Linked DNA regions of Homo sapiens. The protein of the gene in region 1 purifies or fractionates together with the protein of each later gene. This does not show direct contact. Each region holds a gene or a part of one and is shown in the gene's direction. Other genes may lie near its edges. The genes, in order: CYFIP2, MCOLN2, WASF1, CTPS2, PALS1 and CAMK2D.

The links.
Region 2: the proteins of CYFIP2 (region 1) and MCOLN2 fractionate together in Homo sapiens (co-fractionation; one large-scale study listed by BioGRID). This does not show direct contact.
Region 3: the proteins of CYFIP2 (region 1) and WASF1 purify together in Homo sapiens (affinity purification with mass spectrometry; 2 studies listed by BioGRID and IntAct, with this or other methods). This does not show direct contact.
Region 4: the proteins of CYFIP2 (region 1) and CTPS2 fractionate together in Homo sapiens (co-fractionation; one large-scale study listed by BioGRID). This does not show direct contact.
Region 5: the proteins of CYFIP2 (region 1) and PALS1 purify together in Homo sapiens (co-immunoprecipitation; one large-scale study listed by IntAct). This does not show direct contact.
Region 6: the proteins of CYFIP2 (region 1) and CAMK2D purify together in Homo sapiens (co-immunoprecipitation; one large-scale study listed by IntAct). This does not show direct contact.

Annotation. Positions count from the first base shown.
Region 1 is NC_000005.10:157,391,623-157,395,122, forward strand, and holds part of CYFIP2 (cytoplasmic FMR1-interacting protein 2), read left to right. Parts: intron 1-1,210; coding exon 1,211-1,378; 3' UTR 1,379-3,500. UniProt on the Homo sapiens protein: Involved in T-cell adhesion and p53/TP53-dependent induction of apoptosis. Does not bind RNA. As component of the WAVE1 complex, required for BDNF-NTRK2 endocytic trafficking and signaling from early endosomes.
Region 2 is NC_000001.11:84,990,614-84,994,113, reverse strand, and holds part of MCOLN2 (mucolipin-2), read left to right. Parts: intron 1-3,500. UniProt on the Homo sapiens protein: Nonselective cation channel probably playing a role in the regulation of membrane trafficking events. Acts as a Ca(2+)-permeable cation channel with inwardly rectifying activity.
Region 3 is NC_000006.12:110,103,171-110,106,670, reverse strand, and holds part of WASF1 (actin-binding protein WASF1), read left to right. Parts: intron 1-1,091; coding exon 1,092-1,264; intron 1,265-3,113; coding exon 3,114-3,293; intron 3,294-3,500.
Region 4 is NC_000023.11:16,699,170-16,702,669, reverse strand, and holds part of CTPS2 (CTP synthase 2), read left to right. Parts: intron 1-3,500. UniProt on the Homo sapiens protein: Catalyzes the ATP-dependent amination of UTP to CTP with either L-glutamine or ammonia as the source of nitrogen. Constitutes the rate-limiting enzyme in the synthesis of cytosine nucleotides.
Region 5 is NC_000014.9:67,303,935-67,307,434, forward strand, and holds part of PALS1 (protein PALS1), read left to right. Parts: intron 1-3,500. UniProt on the Homo sapiens protein: Plays a role in tight junction biogenesis and in the establishment of cell polarity in epithelial cells.
Region 6 is NC_000004.12:113,513,739-113,517,238, reverse strand, and holds part of CAMK2D (calcium/calmodulin-dependent protein kinase type II subunit delta), read left to right. Parts: intron 1-2,047; coding exon 2,048-2,170; intron 2,171-3,325; coding exon 3,326-3,409; intron 3,410-3,500. UniProt on the Homo sapiens protein: Calcium/calmodulin-dependent protein kinase involved in the regulation of Ca(2+) homeostatis and excitation-contraction coupling (ECC) in heart by targeting ion channels, transporters and accessory proteins involved in Ca(2+) influx into the myocyte, Ca(2+) release from the sarcoplasmic reticulum (SR), SR Ca(2+) uptake and Na(+) and K(+) channel transport.

The DNA of each region.
Region 1 (3,500 bases):
TATGGCTGTATAATATTGCATTGTGTATATAGACCACGTTGTGTTTGTCCACTCAGGTTGCTGTCACCTTTTGGGTATTTTTGAAAATGGTTAATTTTGGCTACCATGAAACATGGGTGTACAAATAACTCTACAAATTTCTGCTTTCCATTCTTTTGAGTATATACCTGGACGTGGAATTGCTGGATCGTATGGTAATTCTATGTTTAACTTTTTAGAAACTGCCATTCTGTTTTCCATAGTGGCTGCACAATTTTACATTCCCACCAGCAGTACACAAGAGTTCCAATTTCTCCACATCCTCATCAGCACTTATTCTTTAATAATAGTCATCCTGAGGGGTGAAAAAGTTATCTTGTTGTGATTTTGATTTGAATTTCCCTAATGACTGTCACTGCTGAGTGCTATATTCATGTGTTATTGGCCATTTGTATATCTTCTTTAGAAAAATGTCTATTCAAGTCCTTTGTCCATTTTTTTAATTGAGTCATTTTTGTTGAGTTGAAGTTCTTTACATATTCTAGATATTACTTATCAGATATAATTTGTGATTATTTTCTATTTTTCGGTTGCCTTTTCATTCTCATGGTGTCCCTTTGATGCATGAAAGTTTTCAATTTTGATGTAGTGCAACTTTTTGCCTTTGCTTTTGATGTCATACCCCAAGATATTATTGCCAAATCCAACATCATGAAAATTTTTCCCCTATATTCTCTTTTAAGAATTTCAGTTTAATCTCATGGTTACGTCTCTAATCCATTCTGAGTTAATTTTTTGTATATGGTATAAGGTAAGCGTCCATTGTTATTTTTTGTGTGGGTATCCATATTTCCCAGCACCTTTTGTTGAAAAGGCTGTTTCCCCCATTGAACAGTCTTGGCACCCTTGTTGAAAATCATTTGATCATATGTGTAATAGTGTATTTCTGGGCTCTCTATTCTGTTTTATTCATCTGTACATCTACCTTTTTACCAGTGCCACAGTGTTGTTGATTATTGTAGCTCTGTAGATCGTTTTAAAACTTGGAGAGGGTTTTTACGGTCCAGTTAACACTTGATTGCCAGATCCAGGGGATTCCATAAAAGGACTTTAAGAAAGTGACATGATCACTGATGCAGGGGACCCTGGACCTCAGTGACTTCTCCTGTTACTCCCTCTTTCCACCCCCACTTTGTCCTGCCCTAACTTGAACATCCCCTTCCTTCTGTAGCCCCTGAAGAAGATGGCCGACCGGATCAGGAAGTATCAGATCTTGAACAATGAGGTTTTTGCCATCCTGAACAAATACATGAAGTCCGTGGAGACAGACAGTTCCACTGTGGAGCATGTGCGCTGCTTCCAGCCACCCATCCACCAGTCCTTGGCCACCACTTGCTAAGCAGAAGATCCTGCAGACCCTTATCTGGAGGAGGAAGAGAAGCAGGAGAGAGAAAGCCACAGCCAGCCTGCCATAGGATCCAACTGGACAACGTGTGGGATGGACCTGGAAACAAGCACCTCCCCAAACACATCACCACTCCCTAGGGCGGGGCCTGTGCATGCTCTCCCATGACATCTCCATGCTGGTTTCTCCATAGCATAAATGAAAAAAAAAAAAAAAAAGTAAACAGGGCAGTGTGTGCTTTTTCTTTTCTCCCCCCTCAACTATATTAAGAACTCCTAGTTTCACCCTTTCTCCATCCCATCATCCCACCTATCTGTGGTTGCTTCCCAAGACCTCCTCCCAAGATAGACATCTCCTACCCAGTGCCCTTGTGTGACCCCAGGACTCAAGTCTCAGACTGTGAACAGATGTGGCCATGCCCAGAGACGCCAGCCTGGCCAGAAGGGCATGCCTCAGCTTACTACTTCATCTCTCCTGGTTCCCTCCCTGCAGTGCCCCGGGTGTCATCTTCTCCCACTCTGGGTACCAGGGATTCTACCACATAGGCTTCCCAAAGCCCCATTCTAACTCCCCTCTCTCAGGGAAGCCCTAGAGAGAGGTCCAAAAAGCATTCACAGCTGTATCACACTCTATGCAGGTGGGGTAGGAGACTGATCAGGCCTGCTGTGGGGAAGCAGTATGTATGAACACAGCCAGAAATGTCATAGTCCAAACAGGATGCTTTCAGGCCATCTCAGCTGCTTGATGGTGAGATGGTTCCCTTATTCCTTCAGGAAAGGCTTAGCATTGGGCCACATAGGGGAAGCAGCTTTGAACAAATCAGTCATAGCACTGCCTATAGCATTAGCCAGTGACCAAATTAGGGACAACGTCTTGGCACAGAATTGCTTATCAAGGAACATTTCCACAAGAAAGAAAATATTAAGGGGTTATTTCCACAGAAGCCCAAAACGTCTTGGAAACACAGAGGTGAGGAGGAGGAATAGTAATTGTCAATGAGCTTTTAATACCAAGATACACCCCCTGCCCCCAAAGAAGAGTCCTCTTTTAGGGAATCAGAACCTTCATTGTCCTAGAAGCTGAAAGATTCTTGGAACATTTTAGCTTTTACTCTCAACTTGCTGTTCTCTTTACATTCCTTAAGTTAGACTTTCGGGTGTGGCTTCTCTCCCAGGGGTAACATTTACTTCCATTTTCTAGACTGAACCAAAAGTCTTCTGCAGAATCTCCCACCGAGTGTGGTAAGAAGGAAGGACAAAAGGCTTTAGGATATAAATTTCATGTTACAGAGCATGTCATTGTCAAAGGAAATCTGTGGCCCTGAGATTTTAAGAACATAAAATGTGACATTTGATATTTCTCCAGCCCAGGGAAGTAAGATGGTTAGCAATGGTTGCCTTAATCAAATGGTCCCATTTTTAACCCCAAAGGAAGTGCCCACAGCAAGAGGTTTGTGTGATGCACTTATGTCCTCCGGTGAGGAAAGGGGGCCACATATGAAAGGCCCCTTAGGTCAGATCCTGAGAGTAGCACATTTGAGTGCAGATTCCTGGGCCCCACCTCAAACCTACTAATTCTGAATCTCTGGGAATAGGGCCAGGAAATCTGCCCTTTCTACAAACTACCCAAGTTGTTCTGTTGCACATCAATGTTTGGGAACCACTGCTGTAAGGGAATCATTCTGGTCACCTTGAGCTTTGAGCTACCACTAAGCCATGAAAGAAAATACATCATACAGGGAAGAGAGAAGGGAGGAGGTTCCAAGTAGTAACTGGCAGATCCTCCTGTCTGGAGGTACCACCTTCTATTCTGGTTTCTGACTTTTCCTTCTTGATGACCATAGATGTGTTCCAGAGGCAAAAGAGACACATTATCCCAGATGGCAGAACATGCTTTCAAAACATATAAAATGTCAAAGTTCCAGATCCTTCTACATCTTTAGTCCTGTCTGAGGATGGTAGCTGGCTCTCTGTAGCTGATAGATGGCTAGAGTTCCATCCAAATCCTTGACCACGACTTCATGGAGATTTGAATAATCTATTTGATGAGATTTCTATTTCAATAACCCACCTCTCTCACCCCACATTCATATCCCTAAATTTGACCCTCTGGGCCG
Region 2 (3,500 bases), on another chromosome or scaffold:
CCTACTGCTCAGAAAAAAAGATTTCTTTCAAAATATTACTGCTCATTGATAATACCTCTGATCATTGAAAAGTTCTGATGGAGATGTACAAGGAGATGAATGTTGTTTTCATATATGTTAACACAACATCCATTCTGCAGCCCATGGATCAAGGAGTAATTTCAACTTTCAAGACTTATTATTTGGCCGGGCGCGGTGGCTCACACCTGTAATCCCAGCACTTTGGGAGGCCGAGGCGGGTGGATCATGAGGTCAGGAGATCGAGACCATCCTGGCTAACAAGGTGAAACCCCGTCTCTACTAAAAATACAAAAAATTAGCCGGGCGTGGTGGCGGGCGCCTGTAGTCCCAGCTACTCGGGAGGCTGAGGCAGGAGAATGGCGTGAACCCGGGAGGCGGAGCTTGCAGTGAGCCGAGATTGCGCCACTGCAGTCCGCAGTCCGGCCTGGGCGACAGAGCGAGACTCCGTCTCAAAAAAAAAAAAAAAAAAAAAAGACATTATTTAAGAACTACATTTTGTAACATTATAGGTTGCCATCGAAAATTATTCCTCTGATGAATCTGGACAAAGTAAACCCTTCTGGAAAGGATTCATCATCATGGATGCCATTAAGAATATTCATGATTCATGGGAATAGGTCAAAATATTAACATTAACAGGAGTTTGGAAGAAGTTGATTTTATCCCTCATGGATGACTTTGAAGGGGTCCAGATTTCAGTAGAGGAAGTATTAGGTCAGTGAAAAAGTAATTGTGGGTTTTGTCCTTACTTTTAATGGCAAAAAAACACAATTACTTTTGCAGCGATCTGCTAACCACAGATGTGGTGGAAATACCCAGAAAACTAGAAGAGAAGCCTGAAGATGTGACAGAATTGCTGCAATCTCATGATCAAACTAGAATGGATGAGGAGTTGTTTGTTATGGATGAGCAACGAAAGTGGTTTCTTGAGATGGAATCTACTCTTGGTGAAGATGCTATGAACATTGTTGAAATGACAACACATAATTTAGCATATTCCGTAAACATAGTTGATAAAACAGCAGCAAGGTTTGAGAGGACTGACTCCAATTTTGAAAGAAGTTCTACTGTAGGTAAAATGCAATCAAACAGCGTTGCATGCAACAGAGAAATATTTTGTGACAGGAAGAGTTAATTGATATATCAGACTTCATTGTTGTCTTCTTTTAAGAAATTGCCCTAACCACCCCAGCCTTCAGCAACCACCACCCTGATCAGTCAGCAGCCATCAACAAGGAGGCAAGACCCTCCACCAGCAAAAAGATTACAGCTTGCTGAAGGTTCAGATGATTGTTAGCATTTTTTAGTATGAAGTACTTTTAAATTAAGGTGGTTTTTTTAGACATAATGCTATTGCAGACTTAATAGACTATGGTATAGTGTAAACATAACTTTTATATGCACTGGAAAACCAAAAAATTTGTGTGACTTGCTTTACTGCAGTATTTGCTTTATTGTGGTGATCTGGAACCAAACTTGCAATATCTCTGAGGTGTGCCTGTAATTTTATTTCCAGACTTCATCTTATCAAACTACAATGTTCTGTTCAGTATTAAATGTTTACAGCCATGTTTTTGGTTTGTTTATTTGTTTGCTTTGGCAATCATCTGAATTTTTTTTTCTTCCCGTTCTTCTCAGCCTGCCTATAGCTGAGCTTTCTACTCTGTTTTGAGCTTGGGCCTCAGCCCCTTTTTTCCTGGTATGAGAGACTGTGTCCAGCGAATGTTGTCCATATTCCTTTTCCCTCAGCTGGGTGGGCTGTTTCCTTTCTTCTCTTTTGAAGGTTGTGTTTTGTTTTCTCCCCTTGAATACATCTCTGTAATTTCAGCCTAAAACATCTGCGAGGCAATAATTGATAACTCATGAGGCAGAAGATTCTTGAAAATAGTCTTTGGTGTAATTCTAGAAGACCCACAATTTAAATGGTGGCCTTAAAAAATTGTACTACTTATGCCAACTACAGGGATTTTCTAGAGATAGCTAGAATGTAGGGATTCACCAACATGAAACTGAGTTGGGCTTGTCCAAAATTAAGGTAACCTCAATGCTTTGAGGAAAAAATGATTATTTCTTTATAATTTCTTTTCCTTAGGGAGAGTCATCAGCATGACTCTATTAAGTTGGGCTCTTACTGAAAATATTGGAGAAAGAAAAATGTTAGGAAATGTCATAATTCCAGTCATCTTCCTCAGTTTTAACTGCATGTGGAATCCTTTATTGCTGAGAAATGGAGTTTCCCTTTCTTTATCTCTTCCTCAGAGAACTGTTTCTTCTAGTTTCCAAAGGAGTGTGGCTTGTTTAGAAGAAGCACTTTAAAAGTATGCAGCCCTAGTTCTGCTTTCCTGGTGTTCAGAGGCAGCAAAGTGGTGATCAGAGGTGATTTTTAGGAACTTGGTGGCACGGTTGTCTGTAGGAAAACTCCTGAAGGGTTAGCATGTTCATCTTTCATGAGTGGCTCTAATGGAAAATGAAAAGCCCCTATGGCCTTTCTTCAGGGGGCTTCTTAGGGTTAGAATGACCATGTCATTTATGTTCTGAGAGCTGTGCTGAGAAGGGAACCAAAGTTTTCTTCTTTGCCTTTTTTCCCCTCAACTTCACTTAATTGACATCTGCCTGCCCTACTCAGCTACCTCAAAACCTCAGTTGGCTAGATATTTTTCTTTCTTCCTCTCTTGTGAGACTAGCAGATCACGAGAAAATTTGTTCATCGTAGGAATTGGAGTGAAAAAATGACGTGCGAGTTGTTAGGAATGGTCTAAAGCATTTTATCTGTTGAACTGCCCCTGGTATTATCCTGGGGCCAACACAGTCATTACTGTAGAAACATTGAATTTTAGTCTCCGTATCTATCACTTCTTCCACCCTCTACCCCAAACCAGTCGTGCACAAACTAAGGCAGGGAAATACCTGACTAGCTGATACATACCAGACTCTTTCTTTTTGAAATGGCCCATTTTAACTCATAATAATAACTCAAGAATTCATACGTTAACCACCAAAAATGAAAAAAATATGGAAAACTTAATGAAGAAAATTAAGATTACCTATAATACTACTTCACAGAGATTATAAAAATATGGAGGCTTTTTTGGCTGGCTCACATGCTTCTAGACTTTAAAATGTCTATATACACATATAAATGCTAGCTTTTTTTTTTCCAGCCTGGGTCGTGTTCTGTCACCCAGGCTGGAGTGCAGTGGCACAATGACAGCTTACTGCAGCCTCAAACTTCAAGGCTCAAGCGATCCTCCTGCCTCAGCCCCCCCAAGTAATTGGGACTACAGGTGCCTGCCACCACTCCTGGCTAGCTTATTATTATTAATTATTATTATTATTTCTAGAGATGGGGGTCTCCCTATGTTGCTCAGACTGGTCTCAAACTCCTGGGCCCAAGGGATCCTCCTGCCTCAGCTTCCCAAAGCTCTGGGATTACAGGCCTAAGCCACCATGCCCAGCTTATGCTGACATTTTTTGAAAAA
Region 3 (3,500 bases), on another chromosome or scaffold:
CTAGTATTTTGTTGCTACAGAGCACATCCTAAACATTTCTCTCCTAAATGTTTTGGAGAGGTTATTATATTCACATGAAATTTCTGTTATTGTCATTTTCCACTTTCTAATAAAATTCACTTGTATCTGCTTTATATTTCATGTTAATGATAACTGAAAACACAGAAGGATGAAGCAAAGTTAGATTTAGGTTGAATTATGAAGGAGGCAAATTCTGTCTTTATCATCTCTCTGGTTCTCCTGTAGCTATCTCTGCTTTCCCTAATCCCTGTATAATGCCATTGTATTGTCTTCTTTGCTAGATGGTAACCCAGTGTTCTAGCTAACATTTGCAAATTGGTGACTGGCAAGCCAGATTATGCCTGTAGGGAGTGTTTTGTTTGCCAAACACAGAGGTTTTTAAATTTTGGAACTAGAGTGCCTGAGATGGACATGTCTGTCTAGCTCACCTCATGCCCCATCTTACACCCGACTGGCTTCATTCATGTATGTTATCCGCTTGGCCGCTTTGGGCGTTTGAATTTGTTACACTTACTCTAGCCCTTTCTGTACTTTCTCCCCCAGTTTTGAATCACTTTTTGTTTTATTGTTTAAAGACAATGTTTTCTGTTGAGTGATATAGTTATTATCGGTTAATTAGATAATTGGATTTTTTTCTAATGTGTTGGCTAGCTAATCAGTTACTTCCCAGATAACATAACCTTAGTAAATTGTTACGTTTTGATTAGGGGCAGACAATGCCATTCATCGTAGAAATTTCAAACTAATGCCTGTGGAGCAAGGGTTCATGAGTCTTTTTTCATCTGAAAGACTTTCTGACCTCAAATTGTATTCTTTAGGCATACTGTTTTGTGTCTGGTGCATCAGTTCAAATTAGGGGTTAAACAAAACATGGCAGGAAACTGGGATTACAGCAGACTGGCTAAGATTTAACTGAATGTACAAGTAAACCATTTCTGTGTTACTTTTACTATATTATGATGACATTGTCTTTTTCAGTGTTGATGTTAGAGTTTAATTTGATTGTTATAACCTCCTTTTTAAAAATTAGCGCTTAAGCATTTGACTTTGTTTCAATACATCTGTTATAGCAGAAAAATCTAGATCGTCCTCATGAACCAGAAAAAGTGCCAAGAGCACCTCATGACAGGCGGCGAGAATGGCAGAAGCTGGCCCAAGGTCCAGAGCTGGCTGAAGATGATGCTAATCTCTTACATAAGCATATTGAAGTTGCTAATGGCCCAGCCTCTCATTTTGAAACAAGGTTTCTTTACTTTTGTTTTTTTTTTTAAATGATAAAACATTGGCTTTATTTGTAGTATCTGTACTTCTAAGTCTTGAGTCCTAAACTGTTGAACAGGCAGACCCTGTTATAAATATAGAGATTATTTCAAAATCCTGACCACTGTGAGCCTACTAAAGTCAGGCCTTGAGCAGGTCATTTTCATACCTGGACCTTAGTTTTGTCATCTTAGAAAGAAGTGGTTGGAGTGGCTGATCTTTAGGGTTTTAGCTTTAGTGTGACGTCTCAATAGCCTCTCGATATTTCAGGCACAGTCTGCTAGAATTTTGTAATAAAAGTTTAGGGTCTGGGGTTTTTTTGAAATACTGTTGATTTATTGCATATAAAATAGGAGTGAAGAAGGGGTTCTGTTTTGTTCCTTTTACTTTCCCCTGACTTCCTTTCTTTGCCACATTGCCCACCTCAGATATATTAGGACTTTCAAACAAAAGTATTGATCCCTTTTGTAGAAAAGATTTTTTCCTTTCTTAGTGGCCAGGGGCCCTAACTAAATAACATACTACCAGCAAACACATTAAACTGGCATCTGTCTACGAAGACACTTATTTGGGTATAGTCATACGTTTGTTTGTTTGTTTTGAGACAGAATCTTGCTCTATCGCCCAGGGTGGAGTGCAGTGGTGTGCTCTCAGCTCACTGCAACCTCTGCCTCCTGGGTTCAAGCGATTCTCCCACCTCAGCCTCCCAAGTAGCTGGGATTACAGGCACACGCCACCACGCCCAGCTAATTTTTGTATTTTTAGTAGAGATGGGGTCTCACCATGTTGGCCGGGCTGATCTTGAACTCATGACCTCAAGTGATCTGCCTGTCTCAGCCTCCCAAAGTGCTGGGATTGCATGTGTGAGCCACTGTGCCCAGCCTAGTCATATGATTTTTTAATGGAAAAGAGCTTAAGGTTTTCTTTTAAGTAATATACATATAAATGATTGGGCCATAAGTGTGCAACATCTTGACCTATTTTAGGAGAAATATACATCTGAGAGATACTATTTATCTGTATTACTGAAAGAATTGACATTAAAAAATTAATAAACTTTAGACATTTATTTCTACTACAGTTGAGTAATTAAGGTACTTATCTGACTCACTAAATACAATAATTTCTGACTTGCTGTGTGCACATCTGTTAAATCCAACTTTTTCCCAAGAATGTACTAGCAAATATTTATAAATCTTAACATGTTCGAGTTATCTAAAATTTTGCTTACATCTAAGTCACATGTTGCTATGTTACTCAGCTATTTTCTGAGTACCCTTGCACCTTTGAAAACAGCAGAAGGACAGAAACAATATAGCTAGCCACCTCTGTGCTGCTAGTATCTGGGAGGCCTTTCTCTCTGGTGCAAGACTTTTAGAAGTCATTTAAGTTTAAGAGCACACCGAGATATACTAGTAGTAGAAAACTCATTTTCCTATTCTACCTTTCTGTCATTGGCATCTTCTTGTAAAGAACTAAATAGAGGCAGATAGCTTTCCACACAATTTGCTAAAAGTTAATTATTTTCTTGTTTATTAAATTACGTACGTAATGCTTTTCATCCTGTGAGTTGAATTAGTATTCTGTTATAAAATAATAAAATAACCGATGGTCATCATAGTAGATCTCTAAATCAACAAGTAAGGGTTATATTGTGAGCAGCATTCTTTGTTTTAAAAGCAGGATTAATATAATACATTTCTGAAAGTTTCTTAAAAATAGTTAAAATATTGGCATTGAAAGGATAAACTTTAAATATTTAATATCTCATGTAGAACCCTTTCCTCCCAATAATTCAAGAATAATTCACTGATACTATATATTTCTTTTAGACCTCAGACATACGTGGATCATATGGATGGATCTTACTCACTTTCTGCCTTGCCATTTAGTCAGATGAGTGAGCTTCTGACTAGAGCTGAGGAAAGGGTATTAGTCAGACCACATGAACCACCTCCACCTCCACCAATGCATGGAGCAGGAGATGCAAAACCGATACCCACCTGTATCAGGTATGTTGGAACAAGCATATGATGTTTTATCTTAGGAGTCAGTAAGCTTTTTCTTTCAAGGACGATATAGTAAGTATTTTTGGCTTTCGGGCCTTACAGTTTTTGTCACAAGTACTCAATTCTGCCATTGTTGCATGAAAGCCACCATAGAATATACATAAACAAATGAATGTGTCTGTGTTGAAATAAACTCTATTTATAAAAACA
Region 4 (3,500 bases), on another chromosome or scaffold:
AATTTCTTTAGGATGTAGTTCCAGATTTAGAGTGACTAGATCGTATGCTATGAATATGTGAATTTTCTCATGGTCATTGATACATTGTTCATACCTCTGATGACATTCCAAATTAATCATCCCTTTTGGAAACATTGTATCTTTTGCACTACAGATTCTGTTTTATTTTTAACATAAAGGTAGTGTGTTTCTCTTAACATTTCCCACTGCCTGGAGTAACTATTATTAATGGTGACATTTTGATGTATGAGTATATTTGATTTATTTTTAAAATGGCATTAGCCCTTACATGCTATTTTTAAAAAACTTTTTATAAGGCCCAGTGCGGTGGCTCATGCCTGTAATCCCAGCACTTTGGGAGGCCGAGGCAGGTGGATCACGAGGTCAGAAGATCGAGACCATCCTGGCTAACACAGTGAAACCCTGTCTCTACTAAAAATACAAAACATTAGCTGGGCGTGGTGGCACGTGTCTGTAGTCCCATCTACTCAGGAGGCTGAGACAGGAGAATCACTTGAACCTGGCAGGCGGAGGTTGCAGTGAGCCAAGATCGAGCCATTGCACTCCAGCCTGGGCGACAGAGCGAGACTCTGTCTCAAAACAAACAAACAAACAAACAAACAAAAACAACAAAAAACCAACCCCCAAAAAAACCTTTTTATATACAAGCAAAAAAGTGCATAAATCATAAGTGTACAGTTGGATGAATTTTCATTAAATGAACACACTGTGTAACCAGCCCCTGATCAAGAAACAGAAATGTTCATGTCCTGCCGGGCGTGGTGGCTCACGCCTGTAATCCTAGCACTTTGGGAGGCTGAGGCGGGCGGATCACGAGGTCAGGAGATCGAGACCGTCCTGGCTAACACGGTGAAACCCCGTCTCTACTAAAAATACAAAAATTAGCCGGGCGCGGTGGCGAGCGCCTGTAGTCCCAGCTACTCGGGAGGCTAAGGTGGGAGAATGGCGTGAACCCAGGAGGCGAACTTGCAGTGAGCCGAGATTGCGCCACTGCACTCCAGCCTGGGTGACAGAGTGAGACTCCATCTCAAAAAAAAAAAAAATGTTTGTGTCCCTTGTTGCTATCCTGTCTTCCTGTTTTTGTTTTTTGAGACAGGGTCTCACTCTATCGCCCAGGCTGGAGTGCAGTGGCCAAGATCTCGGCTCAATGCAACCTCCACCTCCTGTGCTCAAGTGATCCTCCTGCTTCAGTCCCCTGGGTAGCTGGGATTACAGGTGTGCACCACCACACCTGGCTAATTTATGTAATTTTTTTATAGAGCTGGGATTTCGCCATGTTACTTAGGCTGGTCTCGACCTCCTGGGCTCAAGCAATCCTCCTACCTCGGCCTCCCAAAGTGGTGGTATTACAGGCATGAGCCACTGCAACAGGCATGAGCCACTGCACCAGGCCTTGAATATCGTGTTTTAAACTTTACTAACCTGAGAATAAAACAAACAAAAAGAGGGTATCTTATTGTTTTAATTTAGAGTTCTTTGATTTTGATTTTGTTTGTGAATGACTTATTCAAGTCTGTGGTAGATTGTATTTTTGCTTCAAAATGTTACCCACCATCCCTCTGTGGAGTACATTTCCCTGCCCTTTGACCTTGGAGTTTGGCCACGTAGGATAGTTAACTTGTCCTGGTTTGTTTGGAATGTTCCTGATTTTAAAACAGAAAGTCCTGTGTCCTGGGAGCCCTCTTAGTCCTGGGCAAACCAAGCAGGTTGGTCACTCTATTTGGCCATGTGATTTATTTTGTCCTATGGGATGTTAGGGAATATTAACATATGCCTTGTTGAAGCAGAAAATGTCAAATGCATCTGTGTGGTTTGGCTCAGTCTGTCTTGTGCTTCTGCCCTCTACCATGAGAACAGCCTGGTTTTCAGAGATTTCTCGTTCAGTCTGGGTCCTGGAATGAGAAGACACAAAGAATAGACTCACAAGTGACTCATAGCCCCCATGTAACATGAGGGAGAAATAAATAAATGTTTTGTAAGTTGCAGAGATTTTGGGGTTGTTTGTTGTGTGGCACCATTGACTAATGCCATGTGTTACACCAAATTTTCTTTGGATTTTTTTTTAATGATTTTTTTTTTCTTTTTTTGAGACAGAGTCTCACTCTGTCGCCCAGGCTGGAGTGCAGTGGTGTGACCTCGGCTCACTGCAACCTCCGCCTCCCAGGTTCAAGCGATTCTCCTACCCAGCCTGGCAAACATGGCGAAACTCTGTCTCTATTTAAAAAAATAATAGGCCGGGCACGGTGGCTCACGCCTGTAATCGCAGCATTTTGGGAGGCTGAAGCAGGTGGATCACGAGGTCAGGAGATGGAGACCATCCTGGCCAACATGGTAAAAACCTGTCTGTACTAAAAATACAAAAAAATTAGCTGGGTGTGGTGGTGCACACCTGTAATCCCAGCTACTCAGGAGGCTGAGGCAGGAGAATTGCTTGAACCAGGGAGTCAGAGGTTGCAGTGAGCCGAGATCGCACCACTGCACTCCAGCCTGGCGATAGAGTGAGACCCTGTCTCAAAATAATAATAATAATAATAATGGTAATACAAAGATTAGCCAGGCGTGGTAGTACATGTCTGTAATCCCAGCTACTTGGGAAGCTGAGACATGAGAATTGCTTGGATCCAGGAGGCGGAGGTTGCAGTGAGCTGAGATCACGCCACTGCACTCCAGCCTGGTTGACAGCGAAACTCTGTCTCAAAAAAAAACATTGAAAAAAAAAATTGAAAAAAAAAGTATTGTGATATCAATTTGCTTTTTTCCTTAAAATTAATTTTCTAGACCACAGTTATGTACCTTAGAATGGATAAATAAATTAGGATATAAAAGGCTTCTGATTAAATTTGTAAGTTAATCAACCTTTTTTCCTGTGGACATCTAACAGTAGGAATAAATGATAGTTCCCTTAATAGGGGAAAGGTTCAATTCTTACAAGGTGGCTTTAGAAACATACGACTCTCAGTCCATGCCCTGAAGTGACAATAGAGATCTACAGACGTGTCTAGTAGTTAAAGTTGGTGCTCCTCGTGTGACGAAGTCTGCACCTGTCTTTTATGACAGTGCATTGTGCACGTAGCTTATGGCACACACAGGCTTTTTCCCTCACTTTCACCAAGTTGCCTTATGGGTTAGCTGTGGCCTTGCTTTGTCATCTACTGTCTAATTATGGCTTTAATCAAGATGAGAATCAAGTAAAAGTTTCTTATCGCAGTTCCAGAGTCCAGGATACTGATGCTTTGAAGTAAAATGCTGTTTGTTTTTAAAATTTCTGTTTTCATGTCTTTTTTATGTGGCATATGTTGAGTTTGGAAAAGCTAAATCTTGAAGACAGAATTTCAGTAGATTAAAAAAAAACCACAATAGAATATTATAAATAGAATTTTCTGATGCATTTTCTTGGATATAATTGAATTGTTAATATCTCCACCAAAAAGGAGATGGTGATAGAATATGGCTTACAAATACATCTTTTACCAGCTTTT
Region 5 (3,500 bases), on another chromosome or scaffold:
TTTTTGTATTTTTGGTAGAGACAGGGTTTTGCCATGTTGGCCAGGCTGATCTTGAACGCCTGGCTTCATGTGATCTGCCTGCCTCGGCCTCCCAAAGTGCTGGGATTACAGGTGTGAGCCTTCACATCCAGCCAACTCTGCACCTTTTTAAAATAAAAAGTAGAAAATAATTTCAGTTTCAGAATTTTTTTTATAGTTATAGGTGGGTTTACTTAACTTAGTATGGAGTAGGGCAAGTGCTTTTTAAAAAGTATGTGTAACCCTTCTTTTAGAGTATATTGTTCTGTTAGACATTTACTCAGCTAGATCTGTTAAAAGTCAGTCTCCATTACCATACAGTCAAGCAATTGCATTCCAAAGTATATATCCAAAAGGACTGAAAACATATATTCACATAAGAATGTCTACATGAATGTTCATAGCAGCAGCATTCACAGTAGCTAGAAAGTAGTAACAACCCAAATGTCTGTCAGGTGATGAATCAAAGACAAAATATGTATGTATGATGGGATATTATTTGATAATTTTAAAAGCCTACAGTACTGATATATGCTACAACATGGATGAACCTTGAAGAAATTATGCTGAGCGAAGGAAGCCAGTCACAAAAGGCCATATATTGGTTCATTTATATAAAATGTCCAGAATAGGTAAATCCATAGGAGAGAAAGCAGATTAGTAATTCCTTAGATGTGGAGATGAGGATTTATGAGGGAATGGTGATTACTAATCAGTACCAAGTTTCTTTTTGAGGGCATAAGTATGTTTTAAAATTGTTTGTGGTGATAATTGTACAAATCTGTGAATAAACTAAAACCATCCAATTGTGTACATGAGTGAATTGTATATGAATTATATATCAATAAAGCTATTTAAAAATGAAACTTTAAAGTGTTGAATTAACATGGAAGCTTGATGTATTGCATCTGTTATTCTTAACTTTAAAGCATAGCAGTTTGAGAAAGAACACAGTTTCATTTTTCTCTCAATATTTCATCACAGGTATGCTTTATAGTTTGGCTATCATTCCATGTTTTCCCTTAATTTTTTACAGAACATACGGAAGTTGATATTGTATCTGCAACCTACTTTATGTTTACAGTTTTTTTGCAGGAAGAGAAATGAGGAAATATAGTTTGTCTTTGAATTTAAACAGCTTGATTCTCTGTGCATTGTGCTGTTCCCTGTATCTCTTCTGTGTATAAGCCCTGAACTTCAAAAGTAGCTCTGCAAACTGAGGAAACATAACAGAGGAGGGTTGGAATATACTCCTACTTACTTATCTACAATAATCCATCCCTCCTGAGTAAATGACTTTTGTCTTTTGAGAATAAATGTCAGAAGTTAAGACATTTTTTTTTTTTGAGGTGGGATCTGGCTCTATTATCCAGGCTGGAGTGCAGTGATGTGATCACGACTCCTGCAGCCTTGACTGCCTGGGCTCAAGCAGTCCTCCTACCTCAGCCTCCCTAGTAGCTGGAAACACAGATGCATACTACCACATCCGGCTAATTTTTTTGTACTTTTGGTAGAGATGGCTTTCACTATGTTGCCCAGGCTAGTCTCGAACTCCTGAGCTCAAGTGGTCCACCCGCCTCGGCCTCCCGAAGTGTTGGGATTACAGACGTGAGCCACAATGCCCAGCCAAGACATGTTTTCTCAACATTTTTTTCCTGCTATTCATGCAGAATCTGGAATTCTGTAAAAGAAAAGCCATTTTTTTCATGGATAGAATTAATCGAAGTGTTACATTGAAACTTGTTGATTCTCGTTGTATGCAAAACAGAATATCAAAGCAATTAACTTACACAGATTGTTTCAACCTAAGAATGAAATAACTTACTTATCCTTTAGTGGTTATTTAACCCCCAACTTTCATTATTGATTAAGAATAAAAGGCTGGTTTAATCTGAAGACCAAAGGAATATAGGTTCATGGTGAACAATCTCTGGAACTACTTAACTGGAAAATGAAGTAGCTTAAAAAGGAAGAAAGTGGGAGAAAGAGCAAAATGCCACATCTATCCCTTTTAAAATGGAGCTTTTTCTGTTCTTTTTACTTGGAGTCTCACTCTTGTCACCGAGGCAAGCAGTGGCACCATCTGGGCTCACTGCAACCTCCGCCTCCCAGAGTCAAGCAGTTCTCCTGCTTCAGCCTCCCTAGTAGCTGAGACTACAAGTGCATGCCACCACATCCAGCTAATTTTTGTATTTTTAGCAGAGATGGGGTTTCACTATGTTGGCCATGCTGGTCTCGAACTCCTGACCTCAGGTGATCTGCCCGCCTTGGCCTCCCAAAGTGCTGGGATTACAGGCATGAGCCACCGAACCCGGCCTATTTTCATATTTAAAGTAGGGATCTTTTCAGAATAGAGTGATGTGCAGTATTTTTCTTTTCCTTCTTTTCTCTTTTGTTTTTTGTTTTTTTTGAGACAGAGTCTTGCTCTGTCGCCCAGGCTGGAGTACAGTGGTGCGATCTTGGCTCACTGTAACCTCTGCCTCCTGTGTTCAAGCATTCTCCTGACTCAGCCTCCCAAGTAGCTGGGATTACAGGCGCCCGCCACCATGCCTGGCTGAATTTGTGTGTGTGTGTGTGTGTGTGTTTGTGTATTTTTAGTAGAGACAGAGTTTCACCATGTTGGCCAGGCTGGTCTTGAACTCCTGACCTCTGATGATCCGCCCACCTTGGCCTCCCAAGTGCTGGGATTACAGGCATGAGCCACCATGCCCAGCCCCTTCTTTTCTCTTTTTATTATGAATAACTCTCAATTGCAATATATCTTGCCAAGTTTTGTCAGACCTAACTGGCTTAAAATGAACTGCTATTATTAAAGCTCATTGAGGCTGTCCAGAAAGGAAACAGTAATAGGAAATCATAATCTTGGTTGACATATGCAGAATAATTATCTATGGAATTAATAATCTAAAGAAATTAGAACCAATTTATTGAGTATCATTATGGTACAGGTCAGCATCTGTTGATAGCAGCAGCAGCAGATATCTTCCTGATTTATGTTTTGTGATGTTAGAAATGTGTTTAAGACAGATATACAAAATAAGTGTTATCTGAAACCCCTATATAATGACTTGTTGAATTATGATGTCATGTATGGCAATAATAAGCTGTGTCAGAAGTGCTCTCTTGAGTTCTTAAATTTCTTTTGTATCACACATAGCAATCAGTGGCTGCTCTTTCAGTAGCAGAGGGCAAGAGTCTTGGCACCTCTGTATTTCACTTCCTGAGTAACTGGCACATTTGATCTAGGAAATGCATACATTATTCAAACGTACAGTTTCCTTCTCTCGGCCTTTTTAAAAAAAGGAAGGATTGGATTTCCCAGACTAGTTTGTAAAACTTTAGATTATTCTATACTATAATAATATGTAGGGAGGGCATAATAGACTTTTATCTGAATGGGACTTTTTCATTTAGTCTAATGCCATAATCTAACAAGGAGTGTATTTAAATGAAGAAGGATCACATCGCTTATTAGTTACAGA
Region 6 (3,500 bases), on another chromosome or scaffold:
TGAATTATATTCTCAAATATCTATCACATAATTTTATATTATATACCAACAATATTTTGCTGTGATCACATATCAAATAGAACATTATCCCACTATACCAGTTTCTGGGTTTTGTTTTTTGTTTTTGTACTGTTTGGGATACTATGCAAGCTTTCATTTGAAGAATGAGTTTCACAATTGAAAAATTTGAAAATCATAATTCTAATAATATATTTAATTTATAATTAGAATATTTGAAAGTAGATATATATATATACATTCATAAATTAAGTTCAGAATCTGAAGAGGAAGGCTTTATCTACTTTCTCTTTATGGCTTAACTTTGTGTTTATGATATAATTTGCTCTCCTTTGATACATATTCTTGTAAATATGATTTACCACTTTCTCAGGTTTCCCCTCATACAGCCCTATGGAAATCCATGTGCAGGGTCTGGGCATGCTTTCCATGTGTTATTAAGTAGAGTAACTACAGAGTAGCAATATTGGGTTCACCTTTTGTGCACAAGTTGAAAGCTCAATGTGAAAGTGAGAGGAGAAGATATAAAATGTCTTTATTATATTCTATAATGTCTCGTGAACTCTTCAATGCATTTCTGATAAAAATTTTCTATTTAGATGGATGTGTGTGTCAGCAAGAATTAAAAATGTATATTCTTTGAATTTCAAAGCATTGCATTATTCCTAGACTAGTAATTGGAACAAATTATTATTTACATGGCAATAGCTAGCACATTCACCATCTTTACAGACTAGAACCAGCCCCTCTCTGGGCAGACGTAGCCCTGAAAATGCACTGCTTGGTATACCTAGAGGAATGCTTTCATGAAAATTAGAGAACTGAGGAAAATGTTCACCTTTCTTCATGCTGAACCTACCGCTCATTTGCTATCAGAAGACCTGTACAACATTAAGAAACAGCCTCGTGTGTTTCTTTAACAGCTCCTAATAGTTAGCAAGCTTTTACAACTGCCAAAGATAAGCTTCAGGAATTAAAAAATGGCAATTGTTTAGCTGGCAAAAATTACAGATATTAGAGTCAATATCATTTTTCTCATGCTTTATTATGCCAGTGAGTCACAAGTTCCCCATTTTAAAACTACTAAAAATGGACTAATTTAATTCCATGACACAGTGGCAATGGCTTTATTTTTCAAGATTGTCCATACAAATTCATGAATTGGGAAAATAACCTGATATTCTATCATTTTGCAACTAATGTGGTGTAAATTTCCCTTCATCGTTGAAGGACAGTATTTCTACTAAATATGCTAATCATATAAAAGTAAGTTAAGTAATTATCACTACAAAAAATAATGTAAAGAAAGGAGAAGTAGCTTTCTTATATAGTCTTAATATAAAAAAGTATTAGTAATGGGAAGTTATAAGATTTGATTACTTTCATATACTTTGGTGAAATTTGTAATTGGGCAGATTAAACTTCTTGAAGGGTTAAAATGAAATCTTGCTGAAGCTCCTGTAGTCTCAGATTCTTCTCACTACAGCACTCCAAGTAGCCCTGATTAATAGGTCAGTTTTGGCACAGGAATTGAAGCTGTTTTATTACCTCTGCTATTACTGCTTATGAGTTGTGAAAGTATATAATACCTCATTTTGAACCTTGGCATAATATCATGATGACATTGGTACATGTAGCAACCTGTTTGCTTTTATTAAGTTTTGCAAATAATTATGAGAAAGATTGTATAAAATTTCATTTTCAGATCAAAGCAGAGATACTTTGAGAAGAATAGAAGATTCTTAAGTTCTTTTTTTCTGAATTTTAAAATGTATTTACCATATGTGATATGCAGCTCAGTACATATGTTGGTCCCTTATCAGATACTCTTTAATATATATAGTTGTCTACATAGAGGGGGAGAATAGATCTAAATGGTTTTATTTATTTTAGATACAACTTAACTTATATAAAAAGTAAATTTATGAAGAAATTCACTACTTGAGGGAATGATTCATGTAGTTGACTCTTCCCTGTTTGATCGAGTGTGTCTATTTTTTAAACTTTTTATAAATTTATATTTTTGAAGTTTCCATCACCAGAATGGGACACGGTGACTCCTGAAGCCAAAGACCTCATCAATAAAATGCTTACTATCAACCCTGCCAAACGCATCACAGCCTCAGAGGCACTGAAGCACCCATGGATCTGTGTAAGTAAAACTTCTCCAAAACTTCAAGAACTAAAATGAAAAATAAGCTCTCCTTTAATATATTGTTTATGGATTTAAAATAGCTTTGCAAAAAAAGATGAAACTCAGAATGAATGAATTTTTGACTCGAGGTGTTTAAGAAAATTAATTTTATGATGGTGAAAAAATGCAATTTTCAGTAGCAAAGTCTGAATTGCATAGATTCTTAAATAAATATTGCTTGCAGTAACAAAAGGAATGAGTATTCTCCATATCAATTATTAACAATACTCATGAACAAGGTTAAGAAAATAACACCAAAATTAAATGTGTCCCAGAAGAAAAGATTTAACAAAGTTCAATTATTTATCATTAGGCAACTTTAGAAACAAGTATGAAGTTTGGCAGCTGACAGTAGAGTTTCAGTGGCGTAAAATAATGGTCATAGTAGTCTGAATATATTTTAGAAATATTAAGAAGAATAGTGTGAAATTTGAGGGGGATCTGGAGACTTCAGTAAATTTCCAAATGTGTCAAATGCTAAGGTGATAAATGTGGCACTAAGTAAATGAAAGGCAGCTCAATCAAAATGTGATTGAAGACATTAAAATAAAGATAATTTGAGAAATTATTAATATTCATTTCTATACTTTCTGGTTTGGTTTTGTTTTGTTTTGAGACAGAGTCTTGCTCTTGTCACCCAGGCTGGAGTGCAATGGCACGATCTTGGCTCACTGCAACCTCCACCTCCCAGGTTCAAGCAATTCTCCTGTCTCAGCCTCCCGAGTAGCTGGGATTACAGGTGCCCACCACCACGCCCGGCTAATTTTTGTATTTTTAGTAGAGATGCGGTTTCGCCATGTTGGCCAGGCTGGTCTCAAACTCCTGACCTCGTGATCCACCCGCCTTGGCCTTCCAAAGTGCTGGAATTACAGGCGTGACCCACCGCGCCCGGCCCATTTCTATACTTTCTATACGTCAGTGTTGCATCTTGGTCACAAGTAGTCTTGGCAAAACTAAAATTTTATTTTTAGGTAACTTTGGCAATTGAATACTTAGAAGTTGATCCTGCAGGTGCAGCACCATTAATAAATATTTGATGAAGTCAGGGACATTATTATACTTAGTGTGTTTTAAATATTCTCAATTAAGTTACTTTTTCTCCTCTTCTTCTAGCAACGTTCTACTGTTGCTTCCATGATGCACAGACAGGAGACTGTAGACTGCTTGAAGAAATTTAATGCTAGAAGAAAACTAAAGGTAAGAAATTTTACATTTTTATGGGGAGGTAGATTTGACAGACTAAGAAGTGAAATACTGTGTGAGGAAAATAACTTCTAGCAAAGGCTTT